Linked DNA regions of Homo sapiens: regions 1 and 2 are each linked to region 3. Evidence: fine-mapped expression QTL. A gene starts in region 3. Each other region holds a variant in brackets. All regions are shown on one strand. Distances are from middle to middle.

Region 1 (5,229 bases), 20 kb after region 3:
GGAGGTTGCAATGAGCCGAGATCACGCCACTGCACTCCAGCCTGGGCAACAGAGTTGAGGCTCAGTCCAAATATATATATACATATATATATATGTATATATATATACAAATATATATATGTATATATATATATACACACACACAAATATATATATGTATATATATACACAAATATATATGTATATATATACATATATATGTGTATATATATATACACAAATATATGTGTATATATATACATATATATGTGTATATATATATACACAAATATATGTATATATATACACATATATATGTATATATATACACATATATATGTGTATATATACACAAATATATATGTGTATATATGTGTATATATATACACACATATATGTGTATATATACACACACATGTATGTGTATATATATACACATATATATATTTGTGTGTGTGTGTGTATATATATATATATATATATATATATATATATATATGATGCAAACATACATCCACTAATGTATTAGTCGGTTCAATGGATTTCTTTCTTTTTTAAAACAAACAAACAAAATCAATGTCTTGCTATGTTGTGCAGGCTGTCCTCAAACTCATGGGCTCAAGCAGTCCTCCTGCCTCAGTCTCTTGAGTTGCTGGGATTACAGGCAAGCTACCACACCTGGCGAATTTCTTAATATTTTGCTGAAAGCAAATTTTAAACATTTGTCTTTGAAATGTTAGTTGGCTCCAGTGAAAATAAGTCCTTTTTGTTTTTCAGCTCTAATGTGTTCAGTTATCATTTATTAAACACCTATTTTGAGCCCAACATTGGCTTAGGCTCTGTGAAGAAAGGGGTACAAAAATAGAAGAAGACATCTATTTTAGAAGCTCCAAAGAAATGTGTAATAATTAGACAAACTAACACTGTGAGCTAGGATTAAGTCTGAAGATGTGGAATACAAACTGTGCACTCGGAACTCAAGGAAGAGAGAGGAATGTATAGGGTGGGGTTTGTTCCAGTGCCATCTCAACCTCATCATTTCCAAGTTGGTATTCTGAACACTCTCTTAGCCTGTTCATGCTGCTGTAACAAGACACCTGAGACTAGACAGTTTATAGACAATAGAAATTTATTTTTCAGTTTGGAGGCTGGGAAGTCCAAGATCAAGGTGCTGGCAGACTCAGTGTTCCAGCACCTTGCTCTGCTTCTGAGATGTTGCCTCAAATACTGCATCCTCCAGAGGAGACAAGCTCTGTGTCCTCATGTTGCACAAAGGATGGAAGTGCAAAAAGGGCTTAGCTAGTCCCTCCTGCTCTTTTATGACACTAATTCCATCCATGAGAGCAGAGCCTTCGCGGCCTAATTCCCGTCGAAAGGCCCCTCTTCATACTGTTGCACTGGAGATTAACTTTCAATATGAACTTCGGAGGGACACAAATAATCAAAGCATAGCAGTCACTCTTCTCTCAGGCCTGAGGAGCAAAGCTGCCCCTTCTCCTGTATTTGTACATTATCCCATTATCCTGTTTGTTCACACATGCTGGAAGCTTAAGAGCCATCTTCAAGACGGCTCCATCCCTCACTACCTGTACTAATCAGTCATTACGTCCTGCTCATTCTTATTTCAGAGTTTCTGGTCCTTGCCCCTCCTTTCCATCCTCACTGGCAGTTTCCTCTCTAGGGCTCTCATCCCTCATCTTAATTGCACAGAATGTCTTCTAACTGGGCCTCCTGCCACCCGTCTTTCGTCTCTCCAATCCATTTTTCTAGATTGCCCCTGGAGAGTTTGCCTCCTAAAATCCTGAACCGATCTTGTCACGAAGAAGCCCAAACTCAGCATGGAAGCCGAGATCCATACCTCCTGATCTGGCCAGGCCCCTTCCAGCCCCGCCTCCCATCTCTTAGGTACAGTGTGCCTCACACAAGGGGATTTAGTTAGCATTTCCAAGCACGAGGCGAGTCTTCCCACTTTCTGTGTCAGGTTAAACATTCTCTGTGAAATTGTCCTTGATTTGCTCAGTAGAATTAGGTACTCATCTCCCTCTCTCTTTCTGCCCCCATGCTGCTATAGTGTTTCTACATCTATTTAGCATTTACCTCATGCTGCACTTTTAGTTTATTAGAATTCAAGGGTTCTAGGAGTAGGAAGGAATTTAGAGATCATACAGGCAGAGCCTCTTATTGTAAATGTGGCACAACTGAGGATAAACGTGTAGCCCTCCCAGAGTCTACTTTTCAGTTGTCCTTGAGTTTGATCTCAGCATCATTGCCCAAGAAGAGCTTGATTTCCTTTGCTCTGTGACATCTCAGCAACTGCCTCTCTACTTTCTTGGTATCTGTCCTCTTCTAGTTGGTCTGCAAATACTAGGGTTCCTCAGAAACAAGCCCTTAGACCCTCTGCCTTCACACTGTATCCACTGTCCCAGCTCTTGCAATGTCATAGATTCCCATGGCTTCAGTGTTCACTCATAAACAGGCAGTTCACAAATATTCCACTCAAAACTTCTAGCTCCAGATATGAGTATCCAGGGGGACCTTCTAACCTATCATCCAAACAGGGACCCTGTGAGAGTGACAGTGAGCACCAAATCACCAAATGACAGGATGCCAGGACAACTAGCATTAACTGGAGCATCCAGAGCCAGCAGGCACCTTCGGTCATCCTGGTATACTGAACCATTTCACGTATGCTCTTGCATGTCTCAGGCTCCCAAAACTAACATGGATCTGAATCCATAATCTTTTCCTGCAAACCTCATCTTTCCTGGGTGGCCCACATTCAGTACAGGAAAGGAACTGTCCATCAAGTTACCAAGCCAGCAACCTTGAACTGGTCCTTGGTCCTTTCTTCACCTCAATCCCACTCATCACATTGTCTAGTTAATATTGCTTTCTAAGTATCTCAAAATCATCATGCTTCCATTTGTCTTCCACCCCTGCCATTCTAGTCCAAGCTCCCTTGGCATCTGGACTGGATTTGCACGGTGACTTCCATGTTGACTTAATTGACATTCTGTGGAGCTCCTCCTCCAACTCATTCT[C/G]CACACCTCAAATTGATCTTTTAAGAACGCAAAGAGGATCCTGTCATCCCTTGCTTAAAACAGTGCATAAAACATAATACATAATGGAAGACATGATATGTGTCTTTCTTTTCCACTTGATTGTCATGCCCCTAAAACCAGGGACCTTGTTTGTTTTGCTCCCTTTTGTTTAACTGGTTGCGTGACATAGCACCTCATACATAGTCCTGGATGAATATTTATTGGTTGAATGAGCAAATGAAAAAAAGTCCCAGGGTTCTAAAAACCTACTTCAGACCGCTAGTTCCAGAGTCTCTGGGTTCTTTTTTCCCTCAAGGATTTTAACCTCCTTGAAGGTAGAAGTTCTGCTGTTCTATCATTGAATATTTCATTCTTTCCCATTTTGGAAATGAGATACTCCTCTCTACTCTTTGTGTCTTCAGTACTTTTAACCATAGCTACATCTTAGAATCACCAGGGAGCTTGCAGAGAACACTAATGCCAGGATTTTGCCCCAAACTAATTAATTCAGAATCTCTAGACATAGGAAATAAGTTTTAAAAGCCTCCCTAGTGTTTGTAAGGCACAGTCAGGGTTGAGAAGCCACTGGTTTAAATCTGGTCATCCTTCAAGTCCCTTCTCAGGCATCATCTACTCCAGGGAAACTCAGATCCCTCATTTCTCCTCAGGACTTACTAGTAGGTAGTGAAGTGATTCTATGATCAATACTTATTTCATTATTTTCGGAGTTCCATTCCAGCTATGTTGTAAGGATGCATTAGGGCTGAGATTATGCATTATATTTAGGAATTTGCTGAGGACCAAAAAGTTACTTTATAATTTCCTTTTATTTGACCCATGTTCACTTCTCACTTTGGAAAGACTTCAGGTTGATAAGCAAGCTGACTTCTGATTTGTGGCTGCCTCTATGGTTTAACATCCTAGCAAATTTTTCTTACACGTTCCGTCGTGTTCCTGAGCTGCTAGAGAGCTATCTGAGTCAGCGGTTAACTGAGGCTTAGGCACACATAGTCATCAGCTGGGAGGAACAGGCTAAACAGATATCTCCTTGCACTACTTAGAAAACCAACTTTCCATCAGGAACTCTGGGACTTTTAGAAAATATGTATACAGCTTCCATGGGTCCCTTAAGTTATTCTGTTATTGCAGCATGCAGCACATTGGGTGGAAACCTAAAATGCACACTGAGTGACTCCCCTTTCACTCTTTTTTGGGGGGTGAAGCAGGGCAGGTGTAAAAGCAGTTTTTTGTTTTTTTGAGAGAGTCTCGCTCTGTCATCCAGGCTGGAGTGCAGTGGCGTGCTCTCGGCTCACTACAACCTCCATCTCCCAGGTTCAAGCGATTCTCCTGCCTCAGCTTCTCGACGAGTAGCTGGGATTACAGGCGTGTGCCACCACGCCAGTCTAATTTTTTGTCTTTTTAGTAGAGACGGGGTTTCACCGCATTAGCCAGGATGGTCTCGATCTCCTGACCTCATGATCTGCCCGCCTCGGCCTCCCAAAGTGCTGGGATTACAGGCGTGAGCCACCGCACCCGGCCTGTAAAAGCAGTTTTTTAAAATGTGCGTTTATGTATGTTGACCCAGGTTACTCCGTTGTCCCGTTGGTAAAGACTACCAAATTTAATGTGGCTGTTTCGTAAAGATACCTTCTCAGAGACATCGTCAAAGAGCATGCTTTAAAACTCTGTTCAGGCACATTTGCAGCTTTCCATAGGAAACTATAAAGGCAGATAATGTCATAGCACCTTTTTCTAAAGCCATTCTTAGGGACTTCAGCATTGACGATATGATTGAGGGAAGAGCAGGGAGGAAAACAGTGTGTCTGGAGGGCCCCCTGGGCTTCTGCCATGAGATTGAAGCTTGGCACCTCAGTCATGGCCATTCTGCACAGGTAAATCTTAAAATTTCATCTTGAATTTTTCATGGCATCATCAACTGGTGTAGATTTGGGTATCATTTTGCAGCTGCCAAGCGGATCTTTGTGTCAGTTCACCCCAAACTACATCACATTTAGCAAAATTGCCCATAGTATGCAGGTAATATTTTGAGTAGTTTTATGATAGATTTTGACATTTATTTCTTTTCTTCTCTTTTCTTTTCTTTTTCTTTTGTGACAGAGTCTTGCTCTGTTGCCCAGGCTAGAGTGCAGTGGTGCGATCTGAGCTCACTGCAACCTCTGCCTCCCAGGTTAAAGCGATGCTCCTGCCT
Region 2 (5,229 bases), 510 kb before region 3:
TTTCTTATTTGTCCCCTTGAGATTTACAGGAGTAAGTCACATTAATTCTAATGGGATTTAGCCGTCAAAATTTTCTCTGCATCAGCAGCAGAAGGGAGGCATGCGGGCATAGCAAACGAGAAAGTTGAAAAATGAATTTTCGTGACCTAAATTTTTTATTGTAATTATTACATAATTAATATTGCACCTTAATACTAGTTCACCTCATTATAGGTATAAATACCTGGTATGCATTTACTCTGCAGTGAAAATAAACACTGATGTGCTAATCATAGCTAAACATGGGATTGAAAGACTAATCAATCTTCATGAGGGACATCAGTAGTCAGTTTCCATCGAATGATCAAGTTGATGAAAAGAGGATATCCCAATACATGCTAATTTGACATGGAAAAAGGGATTCGCTGCAGTTCAGCTGAGATGGCTGCAGGTGAACAAGGGTCTTACCTAAGTGGGGAGTGTGGGTTCCACCATGCTGATCCCCAGGAAACCTGTCAGAGGATCTCTTCCATAAGACAGTGGTTGTCAAGCTGGGCTCAGAGAGCCACCAAGCTACCTTGGGAACTTCTATGGGCTGAGAGGGTGGAGTGGAGAGGAACAGATAGGACAGAGGCCTACCACTTCCGCTTTCAACCTAGGGTGATGCTTCTCCTTTTACATGTTTACATATTAGCTTTCTTTGTAGGATTTCCTGGGAAGAAAGGGTGCAAGAGCTTTAAAAAAATTGTTGCAGAGCACAGTAATAGCATAGGCTTCTGGAGGGAGACGGGGCTTCCTCACATAGATCAAATCAAGAGAGGAGGCCACAGTCAGGAATTGAACAGACATGGCCATTCTTGTGGCAACTGGGGGGAAATTACATCGTGGGCTCCCTCTTCCCTGCTAACATATAGATACACATATGCCATATATAAATATACATAAACATACATGTATATATATGTACACACATGTGGAAGGAAAGAGAGAGAAACTTCAGTTTTTGTTTTTTGGTTTTTTTTGAGACAGTTTCGCTCTGTCATTCAGGCTGGAGTGCAATGATGTGATCTCAGCTCACTACAACCTCCACATCCCAGATTCAGGCGATTCTCCTATCTCAGCCTCCCGAGTAGCTGGGACTACAGGTGCGTGCCACCACATCCGGCTAATTTTGTATTTTTAGTAGAGACAGGGTTTCACCATATTGGCCAGGATGGTCTTGATCTCTTGAACTCGTGATCCACCCGCCTCGGCCTCCCAAAGTGTTGGGATTACAGGTGTGAGCCACCGCCCATGGCCATTTCTTGCTCTTCAGGCCTTCAGCTGATTGGAAGAAGCCCACCCACATTAGAGAGGGTAATAATCTGCTTTATTTAAAATCAAATGATTGCACATGTTAGTCACATCCACAAAATACCTTCATAACAACCTCTAGACTAGTGTTTGGCCAAATAACAGACACCACATTCTAGCTGATCTTTGACACACAAAGCAAACCATCACTGTGTCATGACAGGTTCCTCTCTTCCTCTCACGTGCCCAGCCAATCCATCAGCAGTTACTCTTGGCGCTACCTTCTTGATGTACCCACACTCCACCCACTTCTCCCCACCTCTGCTGCAGCGCCTCAGTGCAAGCGCCCATCGTGTCTTACTGGATTATTGGAATAGCATCTTAACAGTTCTTCTTTTCTCTGCTTTTCCCTCTTCGGTTTATCCTCAACGCAGCGACCAAAGTAATCCTGTTAGCTAAACGGATCATGTCACTGCTCTTCTGTTTAGAGCCCCTGATGGCTTCCCGTCACCCTTCGATTAAAAACCAAAGTACTTACAGTGCTATCATGCCCTGCATCCTTTACACTTCCCCATGACCTCTCTGACCTCAGCCCCTACCCCTCTGGTTTACACCACTCCAGCCATTTCGCTTCGCTTGATGTTCCCGAGAAACTTCCACTTACACACACTGCACATTCGGTTTCCTCTTTCTAAAAAGGCTTTCCCGCTAGATACCCATATGCCTTGCTCTCTGCCGCCTTCAGGTCTCCAAGTGAAGGCCACCTTCCCATGAAGACCTTCTCTGACCACACTACAAGATTGCGAAGCCCCTTCTTCCTCAGCAACTCCTATCCTTTTTTCCTCTGCAAAATTAGTTATAATTATTCTATAGTTTCTATAACAACAACAAAAAAAACTTCAGTGTCTTATCAAAATAGAAATGTATTTCTTATTTATGTGAGTGTTCCTGATTCACGAGCAACTTTCCTCCATGTGGTGACTAAGAAACAAAACACGTCTTTTGGCTCCCCCAGCAACTCCGGGCTGTGGAGTCCAGTGTGTTCAGCACATGGGTGGGGAATGAGTAGGTGGAAATTTATACCCACTCCTTAAGCCAGAAAATGACACACGTCACTTCTATGCACATGACAGTGGCAAAACTCGTCAAATGTTCCTATCCAGACGTGAAGGAGACCTGGAAATATAGTCCCTGGAGGAGCCCGTGTTTTTCCAGTAACATCTTCACACTGTGGGAGGAAAAGCCAAAACTTTGGTGGAACACTGAC[A/G]AGGCTCCACCCTCCTGACCTAATTACCTCCGAAAGGCCCTGCCTCCTCCTACAATCACAGTAGGGGTTAGAATCTCAACATACAAATGTGAGAGGGACACAGACATTGTCTGTAGCAAGCACTTACCAATTGTAACATGTTACATTTGTACTCATTTATTGTTTTGTTGTTGTCCGTCACTCCCACTAAAATCTATGGCCCGTGAGACATGCATTTTTGTTCATTTCAGTCATTGGTACATTCTCAGAGCCTAGAACAGAAATAAATAATTTCTGAGTGAACAAATGAGTAAATGGGTAGATGGATGAGTTGCTGGATGGGTGCATAGGAATGACAGGGTATATCCTGCCCAGCTGTAGTTCATCAGTAGAAGGGGTTTGGACCACACGCAGGCATTTTCTTGGCAAAGAGGAAGGGGAAAAGTAAGATGTGAGACCGTCTACAGGACACACTTGCCCTTGGTGACTTTATCCTATTCCCTTTACCTAGTAATTGAGTTTTATTACTATGTAACTTTTAAAAATTGGTTTATTCAAAATCAAGACATGGTTATCATTCTACTTAAACTGGTTGTTGGTAATAGAACCTACTTATCCCACACAGACTGACATAGTGCCTAATTGAGAGACACACAGAAAATGTTGGCCAAATAAGTAATTAAATCACGAATAAGTGGGCATCAGATTAGGTTTCCTCCAGCGTAAGCACTGGGACTCATTCATTCAATCTTCAGCAAGTATGTACAGATAAGGCCGTGAAAGTTGTGAAGTTGTGGCTGCATAGAAAAATACTTAATGCCCCCCTGTGTTTGGGGATCACCCAGTATTTCTTTTAAGAAGTATAAAAATTATTAATGTCAACTTTTCCATGTTCCTGCTCTCACCAACATAGAATGTTCCATCTGCAGAACAAATCCAAGTCAGAGGTTGAAATCCTGAAGTCCAAAGATCATTAGTCTGTCTGAACCTTTTCACTGCTTTAGAACCTTAAAAATTCATTATGAGAGCAGAGAGATTTGCTCTTTTTGCTACTGTACTCCATTTTCTCTGTAGTAAAAATGGAAACTTTATTGGAAAACATAATACATCAATTGTAATGATCATCATAGTTTGAGATGGTGGGTTTTTTTAAAATGTTACTTTCCTTAATAATCACTATGTATAAAAACTGCAAATATATATATTCCAGAGTTCCTTTAAATCAGCAGAGATGCACCTGCATATTTTGGTCTCATATATGAAAAAGGGCAATTAGCTTCTAAATTAACACATCCGTGTATTAATAACTGACATTTAGTAGTAGCCCAAAGGTCATATTGAAAGACTGTTCATGCATGAAGCTGCAGAACTTATTCTAATCATGCTGTACCTAATTGATTCACAGATGATCTAACTGGACAAATTGTTAAATAAAAGGGTGGCCTAGAATTCATTTTGTTTTGCATTTTTTTTGACTGTTTGGGAATACTTCAAGTGTATTCCTGTCATCACTTGTCCTTGTTTAGTCCATGAATCTGACATAGCAGAAAGTTCTTCTGGACTCTGCTTGGATATCAAGAGCAAAAAGCTATGGGAAATGATGGACTAAGAAATGAAATGGCACAGCAAAAATGTAACCAGGCATAATAACCCAAATGAAATAGCAAGCATATCATGGCATATTGACTTAAGAGATATTTTATTTATTTGCTGATTATTTCTTTTGTATGAATGCATCAAGCCCCCTGAACCCTAGTTAGTTATACAAATGAGCACCTCATTGTGACCATCCACATGCAGCCAAGGCAGCTCCACTCCCTGCAGCACTATGTCACCATCATCCCATGACAGGGTCCGGTTAATATCCCCACCACTGGCCAGCTGTGGTGGCTCACGCCTGTAATCCCAGCACTTTGGGAGGCCGAGGCGGGTGGATCACCTGAGGTCAGGAGTTTGAGACCAGCCTGGCCAACACAGTGAAACCCCGTCTCTACTAAAAATACAAAAATTGGCCAGGCATGGTGGCAGGCCCCTGTGATCCCAGCTACTTGGGAGGCTGAGGCCGGAGAATCGCTTGAACCCAGGAGGCAGAGGTTGCAGTGGGCCGAGATCACGCCAGTGTACTCCAGCCTGGGGGACAAGAGCAAGACTTATTCTCAAAATAAATAAATAAATCCCCACCACCCTCGGAGTGGTGCTCTTCCCTTAGCTACTGTGACACTACACACTCCTGATTTTGTTCCTACTTCTCGGCCAAGGAGATCCACCCCAACAGATGAACTCCTGCCAGTAAGGCTGAGGGCTGCACAGCCCCTGCGTGTGTGGGCGTATGGGCTGGATAAGGACTGTGCCAAGTGCCGTTTACAATGCCGTGTCGCTTTGCCATTTATTTTGTGATGCAGTGAATACATTTATCTCCATAATAATTGGCAAAAGGTACCCAAGTGTATCAGCCACGTCCTGGTGGTACACAGACAGCACTCACCAAAAGGAGAAGCTGAAGACAGTTGAATGAACAGGTAGGCAGGGACATCAAGAAGATGAAGGGGCTTTAGTGAGTTCTGTGGACCAACAGCAGCATCACCTGGGAAATTGATAGAAATGCCAATTCTCAGTCCCTACTCCAGACCTACTGAGCCTGAGACTCTGGGGATAGAATGCAGTAATCTGTGCATCAACAAGCTCTCCAGGTGATTCTGATTGCAAGTTAG
Region 3 (5,229 bases):
CAACATCAGCTTTTCCTAACGGCCTCAAATGATGGAACTTCTTTGTGTGAGAGACAGAGAGAGACCCAAATTTAACACACGTAAGCTGCCTGGATTACAGGCGCAGGCAGACGTAGAGGAGGACCCCTGCGCGCTTTGTCCACCAGCGACGCCTGGCATAGAGTGCGCAGGGCCGTATTAATGAGTTCTAGAGTATTTTTTTCTATTTTGCAACCATAGTGTGAACGTTCAGCATTGCATACTGAAAAACTTTGAATCTCATGTAAGAAGGAACTGGGCTAGAGACAGGAGCCAAGATTTATTACCATTTCTAAGTTTTATGAGTTCTATTGTTTTCCTACCTTTATTACCAGCGTTAGCTGTAATGAGGATTCTAGAAAAAAGAGCTGGAAAAAAGAAGCATCCCCTAACTCACACAATGTAGCACTTCAGTTCTGGCCTCTTTAGGATTGGGGCAGTGTCTCATCTCTTTATTGTGTATTCGTAGACAGTAAGAGGGAGTCTCACTTACTACTTGGAAAAGTTTTAAAGACCTAATACTTTTGTGTGTGTGTGGGAACTAGGCCACAAAAGTGCTTTATGAAAGAGTTTCCTTACGATCATGTCCGGATTCAAATTTCAAGTAGTTTGCATGATCTTCATGTAATATCTGGGACACACCTTCATAATTGACAAGCCTTTTTTTTATATAATAATAAGAATGGCTAAATGAGTGAGGGATATCATTCATCCGCCCCCATGACCTTATCTTTTTCAAGTGTGAAATTCAGTGGCAGAAGGAGATGGATCTATCCCAGGGCGACTCTAGATTCTTCCCGCAAAGATATGCGTGCTGCTTTCCGTCACTAGCGCCCCGAGAGCCGGGTCGGGTTCGCTTACTACCAAGACTTCTCTACTTAACGCGCTGCGCTCGGGCACTTAGCAACTTCGGGAACACGGGCTGTGGGTCTGGGCACACCACCTCGAGTTTAGGGATTCTCCTCACTTCTAGCCCAAACTTTGGATAAACTAACATAAAGGTTCAGGCTTTCCTAGGAGGCGTCGTCCTTGTTCTCCCAGTGCTCGATCTGTTTCTGGTTCTGCACGGTAGTTAAAAATGCAAGTGGATTTCCTAACGGCCGAGTACAGGTACAGGTGGAGGTCGGCGGAATCCTCTGCTCTGAAGCTGAAAGTGGAGGGTGGCGCGAGGCGGCTGGCGCGACGAGGCTGAGAGCGCACCAGTCTCCGCCACGCTTCCAAGGACAGGTTGGCGACGGCCGGGGCAGGCCTGGTCGCGGGCTCCTAGCCCTCCACGGGCAGACTGCTGGTCCCAGGAGAGGGCGGGGAGATGCTCGGGCGCGCACCAGGGAGCCGCACTCACTCGGCAGCCCCAAGCACGCACGCCCCACCTCTGCCGCCGCCCCGTCCCGGACCCGAAAGGAGCCTGAAGGATCCCGCCGACCACCCAGCCAGAGAGCGGTTCGGCTCAGGTCGCCCATTCGGAGCTACAAAACTCTGGAACCTCCAGCAGTTTCGGAAGCTCCGGGGGAGGGCTTTCCTGCAGACAGGGGGCGGGAGCTAGGGAGCCGGGAGCCAGCGCTGCGGTGGGAACTTCAGTGAGTAGAAAGTGGCCAGTGTCTTGGGAGGAGCAGCAAACTTTTTTTTTCCCTCCCACAGCAAACAAAATCGAGGCAGGGACAGTGTCCGGCCGCTAATCTGAGGGGAGAATGGAGAGGAAAGAAGAGTAGTAAAAGTGGGGAGTGGAGCCTTCGGAGGACTCCCGGGTCCGCCCCTGGCCAGGTGATGCGGGGCGGAGGCCTAGGTGCTTGAACCTGGGGGGCAGACAATTGTTCTGCTGCAGTGCCCACCAGGGGCTGGTAAGGAAGTCTGAGTGTTTACTGCCTCCCTTCCCTGTCCAAAGGTCATTTGCGCTTTTCGGTCTCGGACGAAAGAACACTGTGGAAAGGAAGGCGCGGGTCATTTTCAGAGGCTCTGCAAAGGACGGGCCGCCTACCGGGGGTGGAAATCCTTAATTACACCCTTCTGCCTCGGAATCCGTCTTCCCGGCAGTGTCTTGCACTGCCACCTCCTCGGGTGACTCAGCTGACCTGAAATGCCCACCCTACGGAAGATCAAGAAAAGTAGTTTTCTAAGAAGGTTAGAGGTTTGATTACACAGAGAAGTGTTTCCACTTAAGTCCAAAGCAATTACCCGCCCCCTCCCCCAGGGCCGCCTCCCCGCCACCCGCAGCAGAAAAGGACAGACCCCCACGCACGTACCCCCATTTTGTTGGTGCGTGTGAATTTCAAATGGCGCAGTAAGTTCATTAGTGTTTTCAATCGGCGGCGGGCAGACCCCTCATCAGAGCCGAAAGCCGGCAAGAGCCATTCATCAGCGTGAAGTGTTATTCACGGATGACCCCTAAATCACGGCGAGAGTAGTAAAGGCACTGATTGGTCACAGCATGGGAGCCTCGGTGCTTTCCCGAACCCGACGCGGCCGGGAGGAGGGAAGGAGGGAGGGGCGGCGAACGTGGTTCAGTCCGGCAAATCCCATTTGACAGAAAAAGGCAGTAAACGGGGAATCTCTTTTTTTGAATAAAGAAGAAGAAGAAATAAAGTACCTGTCATCTTGACAAGTGGCGGAGCGGAGGAGTCAAGGATTATAAATGATCACAGCCAGGTCCAGCTCGCCCCGTGATTGGGCTCTCCCGCGATCTGCACCGGGGGAAGCGCATGGTAGGCTCCTCTCCTCTCCTCCTCTCCCTCGCACACTCCCGCACACACACACACACACACACACACGGACACGTGTACGCGCCCGGGCTCGGGCACACTCGGCCCGGCGCGTCCCCCGCCGCACAATTACGGTCCTGGATGCCGCTCCCTGGCCGGGCGTCCCGCGGGCCTCCTCACCTGGCCCTTCTCGCCTTCCTCCTCCCTCGCCTCCCCGGTCCTCCCGCTCGCGGGCTGAACCCCGAAAACTCCGGCCCGGCCTGGTCCGCCGCCTTGGAGGAGGCTGGAGGGGCCGGCGGGCGGGGAGAGGGGGAGCGCGGGGGAGAGAAAGAAAGTGAACTCATTGGCGCGCGGGCGCCCTCCCCTCCCGCGTCCCCGGGCCGCGCGGCCGGGGGCGGGCAGGGAAGGAAGTTGTAACACTCGCGCCCCCTCCCCGCCCCCGCCCCGCCGGCGCCCGCTCCCCGCTCCCTCGGCGGGGCCCCCCTCCCCCGCGCCCGGCTCCTTTGAATTTGGCCCGGCGCGGTGTGCGCGCGGCTCGGGCGGACGCGGCGGCTGCTGCCGGGGAGCGAGCCGGCGGCGCGGGCGAGCCGAGCGCGGTAAGTGCGGCGCCGCCGCCGGCGCGCCCTCCTTCCTTTATGGGGTCCTAGTGCCGGGCCGCGGCGCCGGGAGCTGGCGGGCGCGAGCTGGGACGGCGCGTGGCCCCGGGAGGCGGCGGACGCGGGGACATCTTCTCAGCGCGCGGATTCTCTCCACGGTCCGGCCTCCCCGTCCCCGCCCCGCCCTCGCGCCAGCCACCTCCGGCCGCCGGCTCAGGTGGGAACTTCGCCGGCGCCTCTCGCCCGGGGAGCCAGGCGCCGCGCCCCCGTACTGGGGAGCCCCGGGGTCCCTGAGGAAGGCAGTCCGGAGGCTGGGCGCCCAGTGGGGGCGGGGAGGGGAGCCCGCCAGGTCCTCTTCGGCCCCCGATGTGTGGCGAGGCCCCGCGTCTTCTGCGGGGGCGTCTTAACAGGATCCTGGGGGGCTTCCAGCGAGCGGAAAGCCCCGGGATGTCACCGCTTTCCGGGGCAGGCAGGGGACAGAAGGCTTCTGCAGCGATCAGGGAGCCAAGTTGAAAAGGAGTGAAGGAGGGAGAGTGCGGGGCGAGGGGTAGCGTGGGGAGTGGTGGATCACGGCTGAAACTTGATCGGGAAACTCTGGATGGGGTTGGAAACACACACAAAATATCCTGAGCTGGGCGTTTCAAAAATTACGAATTTATGAGCCTGCAACTGAGATTCTAAGTCCCTCTCGTGTTTTACAACCGATTACAAAGAGCTTCACGTATTTTAGGTTGAGGCGGGTTGTGTCTGATTGATCTTTGCTGAGCATCTTACTATGCAGCTTGGATTCCATTCTTACTGCCTCACCTTTAAGGTAGCTGGAGTGGTAACTTGTTAATTTTTATTGTAGAGAGAGGGTAACAAGTACTTGTACCGTGTAATACATCACACACGTGTGTTTCCCCAAGTCACTGTAATTTGGAGGTAGAGAAAAGTTTCCAGGTACGTGTGAGGAGGTGCAATGGAAATGAAAGGCTGAGAGCTGTCCTAGACTTTTTACAGGGCCCCAGACGGCTGGGATGCCCGAGAACAGGACTGTCTCTTCATCATGCTCTATTTCTTATCTTCTGACAATGTATTTTGTCAAACATTGGTAGACTCTGGCAGAATCCACTGGGTGGTCTTTTCACTAGAAATAGACATATGTTGAGGCATTACCTTTCCCTTCTCTTGTCAAAAGAAAAAAGGTGGATATGGCATCTCTGGAAAGCTTGGAAGAGTATCCCAAAAGATGGTATTGTAACTGAACAGAACTTGGTGATTTGATCCCTTAGTGAATTTCTTTAAAATAATGACGCATATCCCTTTTTCCCCACTGCCTACTTGGAGAAGTATTTGTAGTCTTTATGTATTAATATATTGAGAACAGACTGACTTTAGAATTAAGAGCAACTGTGTAATAATAATTATCTATTTTAATATTTCAATTAAAACAAGATTTTATAAATTCAACAATCTTGCTTTGTGCATTCCTTAATACACTTTTAATTATCTAAAACTTCGAGCATGTATATCTTAATATATAAAATTCTTGTATGAGCCCTGAAAGTTTGGATTTGTAATTCTAAATGCAGAGTAAATATTTAATTCTTGATCTAAGAGTGAGAGGTTAGTTCAGTAATAAGACTTGCTAATCCCACTTTAAAATGTCATGGCATTCACAAATTATTCCTAAATTCTTCAAAGATAGGAGTTTATAATGAGTTTAGTTATTCTATTGTGTATTTCAGGATTGTCTGTATCTCTTCCTGTTGCATTTCCCTTAACAATCTTGTTCTTTTTTTCTTACACGAATTTTATTATTCCTCTTAATCAAAGATTTTTTTCTAATAGTAAACAAATATATCTTATGTTAAATAACTTAGAAAAGAATAGTTAGAAAAAGTAGTTCAAATCAAACACACATTTTACATGCACTG

Alleles and levels. Alleles are on the strand shown, and positions count from the first base shown. SD is a standard deviation of normalised expression in the study named. Not every link is listed here.
As copies of A replace G in region 2, the expression in fibroblasts of the gene that starts at base 3,071 in region 3 goes up (small effect, 0.39 SD a copy in GTEx).

Evidence for each region. PIP is the estimated chance that this variant, and not a neighbour inherited with it, causes the effect.
Region 1: its variant is the best candidate, but not a certain one, in a credible set for the expression of TENM3-AS1 in fibroblasts (GTEx, PIP 0.89).
Region 2: its variant is the best candidate, but not a certain one, in a credible set for the expression of TENM3-AS1 in fibroblasts (GTEx, PIP 0.89).

The regions. Positions count from the first base shown.
Region 1 is chr4:182,161,519-182,166,747 of GRCh38, forward strand. It overlaps a transcript of TENM3 not described here. Among named protein-coding and RNA genes, the nearest start is that of MIR1305, 5.2 kb to the right of the region's middle. The variant C/G (reference allele first, on the strand shown) is at 3,021.
Region 2 is chr4:181,635,065-181,640,293 of GRCh38, forward strand. It overlaps a transcript of TENM3 not described here. Among named protein-coding and RNA genes, the nearest start is that of TENM3-AS2, 190 kb to the right of the region's middle. The variant A/G (reference allele first, on the strand shown) is at 2,540.
Region 3 is chr4:182,141,445-182,146,673 of GRCh38, forward strand. TENM3-AS1 (TENM3 antisense RNA 1) reads right to left here and starts at 3,071. Exons shown (of 5, transcript NR_125905.1): 1 at 2,895-3,071; 2 at 2,603-2,696; 3 at 2,259-2,400; 4 at 1,994-2,101; 5 at 1-40. It also overlaps a transcript of TENM3 not described here. RefSeq lists enhancers at 1-373, 3,328-4,316.